2 linked regions of the Homo sapiens genome follow. The protein of the gene in region 2 purifies or fractionates together with the protein of the main gene of each other region. This does not show direct contact. Each region holds a gene or a part of one and is shown on either strand. Other genes may lie near its edges.

The links.
Region 1: the proteins of LRRCC1 (region 2) and STRN purify together in Homo sapiens (affinity purification with mass spectrometry; 2 studies listed by BioGRID and IntAct, with this or other methods). This does not show direct contact.

Annotation. Positions count from the first base shown.
Region 1 is NC_000002.12:36,956,253-36,960,075, reverse strand, and holds part of STRN (striatin), read left to right. Parts: intron 1-3,823. UniProt on the Homo sapiens protein: Calmodulin-binding scaffolding protein which is the center of the striatin-interacting phosphatase and kinase (STRIPAK) complexes.
Region 2 is NC_000008.11:85,127,504-85,131,326, reverse strand, and holds part of LRRCC1 (leucine-rich repeat and coiled-coil domain-containing protein 1), read right to left. Parts: intron 2,153-3,823; coding exon 1,948-2,152; intron 1,409-1,947; coding exon 1,269-1,408; intron 1-1,268. UniProt on the Homo sapiens protein: Required for the organization of the mitotic spindle. Maintains the structural integrity of centrosomes during mitosis.

The sequences.
Region 1 (3,823 bases), on a different chromosome or scaffold from region 2:
CAGCAGGTTCATTTTTCATTCTACTCATATTCTTGATAATTTCATAATCTTTATATTTTAGAAAGGTTATAGAGGCTTTAATCTTTTAAAACGTATCCTATTATTTGTCTCTTCAGTTCAGTGTTTCTCAACCTTAGCTATAATCTTAGAATAATCAGAGGGAATGAATACTAATTCCCTGGACTCTACCCCAGATCAATTAAATCAGAATCTTAGGAATGAGGACCCCTAGCATTAGTATTTTTTGAGCTCCCCAGTATACAGCAAGGATTGAGAACCACTGCTTTAGTTGTTTTTTTCTGTTTTTACATTATCTATAAAAGTTTGGTGATTTCAACACTTTTATTAGTATTCCCTATATGGATGGCTTTTTATAGAATTTGGGATATAATTTCTTTTTCCATTGTTCTTTCTGATGATAGCATTTTATTTTTAGGCAGTAGAATATTATAATTTGAATCACCTCCTTCTGACTGAGATGTAATGACAGAGTAATCTTTGAGCTGGAATGAACTTTGGAAATAATCAGCTCAGTTAGGTAAAGTGAGGTTCAGAGGGAGGCTGAATGACCAAGAATGAAATAGGTTTTGTACAAGCTGTCACTTACATCTCCAGATATCTTTACAGTTTTATTTTTTCATATTTTTTGTCTAGGGGCCAGGCTAATCATCTGTATCATTCCAATTTGAGTATATGTACTGCTACAGCCAGCACTCTTTACAGTTTTCTTTAAAGCCCTTTCAGATACACTGTACCATTTAAACTGTACAACCTTCTGAGGTAAGCAGAGCCACACTGATGCTTATTTATTTATTTTTTTTAGATAACAGGCATAAAGATTTTACTGTGTTTTACTGCTTTCTAGCTTATTTTATTGGTTGCATTTAAGATTTTCTCTGTCTTTGGTGTTATGTAGTTTCATTATGATGTGTCACAGTATAGATTTCTTTTTCTTTTTTTGAGATGGAGTCTAGCTGTGTCGCCCAGGCTGGAGTGCAGTGGCACAATCTCGGCTCACTGCAACCTCCGCCTCCTGGGTTCAAGCAATTCTCCTGCCTCAGCCTCCCGAGTAGCTGGGACTACAGACGCCCGCCACCATGCCCTGCTAATTTTTTGTATTTTTGGTAGAGATGGGGTTTCACTGTGTCAGCTAGGATGGTCTCTATCTGACCTCGTGATCCGCCCGCCTCAGCCTCCCAAGTGTTGGGATTAGAGGCGTGAGCTACCACACCCAGCCTATATTTCTTTTTATTTTGTTTGGGACTTCATTAGACTCCTTGAATTTGTGGATTGGCTTCTCATTAGTTCTGCAGATTTCTCAGTTGCTATCTTGTTAGGTTTGTCCTCGATTGCATTTTCCTTTCTTCTCCTTTTGGGTTTTTGATTACATGATCTTAGGGCTTCTCCATTATCTGCTCTGTATTTTCCATCTTTTTATCTCTCCATGCTTTATTCTCGATAATTTATTCTGACTTATTTTCCAGTCTGTGAATGACATATCTTCCACTCCATTAATTTTCTCTTCAGTTGAGTCTGATTTGTTAAAACCATCCACTGAATTTTTAGTTTTGGTTATTGTTGAAGTTCATTTTGGTTTCTTTTCAAATCTGCTCGGTCATTTCTTAAAAAAATATTGTTCTGTTCTCTGCAGGTATTTTCAGTGTCATCTTTAATTCTTTAAACATAGTAAGTAGTTATTTTTTAGTTAGTGTCTTTGCGTTTCCTTTATCTGAGGTCTTAGAGGTGCCTTTGTGTGGTCTGTTGTCTCTGCTGGTTCTTGTTCATGACGACGTGTTCCCTTGTATCCTTAGTTTACCTTTGTGTGCCGCCTGCTGTCCTTGAAAAACTGTGAGACTAGACAGGCACGGTGGCTCATGCTTGTAATACCAGCACTTTGGGAGGCTGAGGCGGGCAGATCACCTGAGGTCCGGAGTTCAAGACCAGCTTGGCCAACATGGTGAAACCCCGTCTCTACTAAAAATATAAAAATTAGCCAGGTGTGTTGGCACATGCTTGTAATCCCAGTTTCTCAGGAGGCTGAGGCAGGAGAATCACTTGAACCCAGGAGGCGGAGCTTGCAGTGAGCCAAGATCGCGCCACTGTACTCCAGCCTGGGCAACAGAGTGAGACTGTCTCAAAAAAAAAAAAAAAAAAAAAATTAGCTGGGCGTCGTGATGGGCGCCTGTAATCCCAGCTACTCGGGGGGCTGAGGCAGGAGAATCACCTGAACCTGGGAGGCAGAGGTTGCAGTGAGCCGAGATTGCACCACTGCAATCCAGCCTGGGCAACAGAGACTCCACCTCAAAAAAAAAAAAAAAAAAAAAAAAAAAAGACAAAAAGAAGAACTATGAGACTAATCTGAGCTCTCAAATAAAGGTATCTTCTTCAGAAAGGTTTTTTTTTGTTTGTTTTTTGTTTTTTACATTTCCTTCTGGTAGATGTCTAGAGTTATTACCAGTCTGGGGCCACTTTATTTTTTATTTTTATTTTTTGAGATGGTCTTACTGTCACCCAGGCTGGAGTGCAGTGGTGTGATCTTGGCTTACTGCAACCTCTGCCTTCCAGGTTCCAGCGATTCTTGTGCCTCAGCCTCCGGAGTGGCTGGGACTATAGGTGTGCACCACCACGCCTGGCTAATTTTTGTATTTTTAGTAGAGACGAGGTTTTGCCATGTTGGCCAGGCTTGTCTTGAACCCCTGGCCTCAAGTGATCTGCCCGCCTCCGCCTCCCAAAGTGCTGGAATTACAGACGTGAGCCACTGCCAGGCCTGGAATCACTTTAAAGTAAATGCATTACTTAAGATGTTTGGGCCACCCAGCTGATGTGAATTTTGGTTGTGAATACATTTGAGGGCCAATATACTTCTGTTTTGTCTTTGCTTTGAAGACATAAGCCCTTTAGGGATCTAGCTAAATGTGAGGTATATCACCTATTAGACTGTCCACTCTGGAGGGGTAGGGTGTTTGATTTTTGCTCCTTGAGTCCTGCAAGGCTGTTTGTTGTGATTGGTCAATATCCTAAGGGCAAAAATGGCTTTTTGTTCCTTTACCTCACTGGGTTCCCATTTTCCCTTTTATTTTGGCCAGATAATTCCTTCCTATTTTTGTGTTGCTTTTAAGAAAATTGTGAAAATATTTTGTCCAGAATTTTTGGCTGCGTTCAGTAGAAGAATTGTTGTGGGGCACCATAACTGGAAACTGAATTCTCTTATTTTACTTTCAAAATCTGACAAATAAGAATGGCCCTACTAATTTTTGGGGGAGAAATAATGTTGACAGACAGCACTTCTTTATCAAGAGATGTGCCTATTTAGTCCTGAACTTTATTTCAAATCTACTTTTCTTTGAATGGTAAAGGGAGACCTACAGTTTTTCTCCAAAATCTTGATAACTGAAGCAGAGTTTAAAACAAACAAAACCCTTTGCTATGCAGTCAATGAAAGGTGTTTGAAAGTTCAGATAATCTGGATAGAGTCCCCTTTGCCCACCTGCTATCTCCTTGATGTCAGCTATACTTTTGATTTGCTAATGTGTGTAGCATCCAGGTTTCAATTCTGGGCCATTAGAAATAAAATTGTCCTTGGATCTTTGGCGTTTCTTGCCTCGGTGGCCAATCTGACAAAACAATCTGTTGACCATCATAATTGGACAGTTGAAAGTATGGGCCTCAGAGTCAGACATCTCTATCACTTTCATTTTACAATTTTTCTAGGCCTCATTTTTGTAAATGTGGGTGATAATATCCCTACTAAGCAGGATCGCTGTAAGGTTTAAAAAAGATAAATATGCAAAATATGTGATATATGATGGGTGTCCAGTAAGTG
Region 2 (3,823 bases):
TTCTTTACGGTTCTCCACTACTTTTCTTGCATTACTCAAACTCATAATGTGAAACCCATTATTTCCAGTTTTTGGTTTCTTTAAACTGGAATGAAACTAAGTAAAGGAAACTAAGTACAAAATTCCTGTAAAGGAAACAAAGTACAAAATTCTAGATTTTTGTGATTATTTTCCCCCAATCTTTTATAATTGTCTCATCTATACAAGATAACAATTTTCCCCAGAGCACCAAAATTTATGTAGACACAAAACAAAACAGGTTTCGGAATAAATACAATTAACATATGATAATCATACAATTTCACTGGTAGGATAGTAAATAGATAACTGAAATAGATAAACTGAAAATGTTGAAATTATTACAGATTCTGTAGAGCAAGAGTTGAGAAACTACAGCCCATCAGCCAAATGTGACCTACTGCCTTTTTCTTTGTAAATACACTTTTATTGGAACACAGCCATGCCGTTCATTTATGTATTATCTATGGCTACTTTTGTGCTACAAAGGCAAAGTTAGGTATGGCCTGCAGAGCCTGAAATATTTTCTATGTGACCCTTTACAGAAAAAGTTCACTGACCCCTCCTTCAGAGGAATAAAGAATACTGATTAATTTACTAATTAATTAACTTGGGGGTCAATTAAAAATTTTCTCTCTATATAAAGACCAACTTTTGGCTGGGTTTGAAGAAATGAACAATAAGCTATATTGTTATAAACCTATACCTCAAATGCTGATAACAAAGGCAACTATTCATTTTTTAGCTACTAGTTCTTGCTATAGGGCTGATTCTAATGTATACATACATGAACACGGCATTTTCCACTAACTAATTCTGTCAGACTTCACCAATGCTCAATCACTATCTTTAAATACTGGTGGTGGGGGCCAGGCGCGGTGGCTCATGCCTGTAATCTCAGCACTTTGGGAGGCCGAGTGGGGCAGATCATGAGGTCAGGAGATCGAGACCATCCTGGTTAACATGGTGAAACCCCATCTCTACTAAAAATACAAAAAAAAAAAAAATTAGCCAGCATGGTGGCGGGCGCCTGTAGTCCCAGCTACTCGGGAGGCTGAGGCAGGAGAATGGCGTGAACTCGGGAGGCAGAGCTTGCAGTGAGCCGAGATTGCGCCATTGCACTCCAGCCTGGACGACAGAGCAAGACTCCGTCTCAAAAAAAAAAAAAAAAAATACTGGTAGTGGGGAACCAGTAGCTTTCTTTTTCTTTTTTTAAATGCCAATACATTCCTGATACATTTTTCATTTACCTGTGTTCCTGTTCTTTCAATGCAAGAAGTTGATGAAGTTGTTGCGCTTGTTCTCTTTCTCGATGAAGGGAAGTTCTAAGTAAGTATATTTCTCTATCGGCAGCTGAAGCTTTGAGTTCCACCTCTTGGATCAGTCTTATCTGAGTAAAATACCCACAATTACATTATTTAGATAATAGTCTCCCCTGCTATTTTAATGTCAGTTTCCATAAGTACCTTTTAAATGACAGTGTCCGGTGACTAAGTTGATTTTCAAACTTTAATAAATTAATGATGTTACAGTCACACAAAGTGCAGCCTTGGAAGGAACAAATACACTAGCATTAACTATTGCTTATTTGCATCACAGATTTTAATGATAATTTCCATTCAGAAAGCATGAAAATGAAATTCCTTCAATCACCTGAAAGCCTTTTAAAAAGCCAGCTCTCTCAGAATAAAAGCCTAACCACCTGCAACATTTCCATCAACTTTTCTTTTTAATTGCTTTGTGTTAAGAGCTAGTAGTCTTAATTTAGACATAATTCAACAGGCTATGTGACCGTTAAATTAACAGCAATTTAATTTTTGCATATGGCCTTACATCTTTTAGGTTTTCTAGGTAGTATAATTTGTTTCACGATAGAAGCTATGAATTTGTGTTAATCTGTGCTACTCATATATTAAAATAGAGAAATACCTGTGCTGCCTGCTGCTGCCTTTTTTGTCTCTCCATTTTTTCTAATGTTTTTTCGAGGGTTCTTAAGTGTTTAAGGTGATCCTCTTGTTGATCTTTTGCTTTCATTAGTTCAACAGTCAGTTTTTTAATTTCATTTTGAAGTTTGTGAACCATAACTTCGAGTTGTCCTTTGGAATTTCTCTCTCTAAAAATAATTTCCTTTAGCCTAAAGCAGAAGTTATATGTGGTGTTAAGTATATTACACATATAAAAATGATAAAATTGTTGACTTCAATGAGAGTACTCTCTGAACTGGTCTTCCTTTGTTCATGCTCTCAACTCCTGTTTGATATGCTATATGAAAGCGTGCTAGACTGTATATGGGTAGGGGCAGGGAAAGCCACAGAGAAACAGAAATGGAACAATCATCTAAGCAACAGTTAAGGGCCTAAAGAAAGGTAACAGTTTTGGGATACAGAGGAGATAGTTCAACATCTTTTAAGATGATATCAATATCAATTGATGAATAAAAGTATCAATAAAGATGGTAATATCAACTGGTTGTGGGATAGGAGAAAGAGAAAGGAAGCAAAAAACAAAGATTCCTAGATTTCTATAGTTTTGGTGACTGACTGGATGCTGGATGGGGCACCATTTATTAGGGCAAGAAATATAAAATAAGGAAGAAGAATGAATCCACCTGAGGCCATGGTGATCTTAAGAAACTTATGAGGAATACAGGCAAGGCATTTTTAGTAGATAATTAGATGAACAGATCTGGTCATCAAGGAGGTTTGGATAATAAAGATACCATAGTAGGTAAGATTCATTTTTTGAAATTGTATATACTCACAGCATGGCACCCACATGCCAGACCCTGCATTAGGGATACAGAGTCCCTACCAAGGCACATAAGGGAACAGGGAGATTGGTAAGGATCTAATCTCAAACAAACATGTGGTGGTGGGGGGGGTGGGGGGGTGGCACAGATAAAAGAAGAATCAGAAAAGATTGATTTTTCATGAGAAAAATGAATACATAACTTGGGAAACACGGGCACAACAATAGGTTAAGTAAGAAGAAAGATAAAGTGTGCCCAAAGTCTTCCAGTTTAAATGGACTTTGGCTAGCAGCCCTAGACACAGCGTCCTCTAATATCCCACTAAATACCTAGAATACAGAATAAAGTAAAAATTCATACACATATAACTGAAAACAAAGGATAAGAGAATGCCAAAATTTGGGAATAATTTCAATTACAAGGCAAATGGAACTAAATTGAAATTAAAAACAACTCCTACAACACTCAGGCTTTGCCTCATGAAACTGCTCCATTCTGAAAAAAGGAAGACATATCTTTTCTCTTCTACTATCTGTCCATGACTCAGTCACAAGATCTCTATAAATCTGTCACTACATAATGTTGGTTACTCATGCACTTACTGAAAGCAGGAGTGCTGTTTTTCTGAGGTAGTCAGAGCACTCTTAATTGAGACATCCTGTTCCCTCATCCATACCCAGTAGCTTCTTGTGTCAATTCAGACAGACATTTATAAAACACAAATAAGGCAGGAAGTTGGTGGGTAGTGGTAGAAGGGCTAGTGATAACATAACGCATCACAGCTTTATAATTATAGAGGTTCTCATAGCATGCATGTTGCGTATTAGAATTGTCCTTATACTCCACAGGTACAACCTATCAGAGAAACATGCAGTGGGGTAGAAAACACCACGTCAGTATCACAAAAGTGCCTAAAAGAAATCGGGAACTGGGCTGTGAACTGTGTACATCAACTTATCCAAATCAGATTTTAGAAGGGGAATTATCCACTGCACAATCAGACAAGAAATGGAACCAAGAGCAACTTCCCAAAGTGTGTTAGCAAATGTCAAGTCT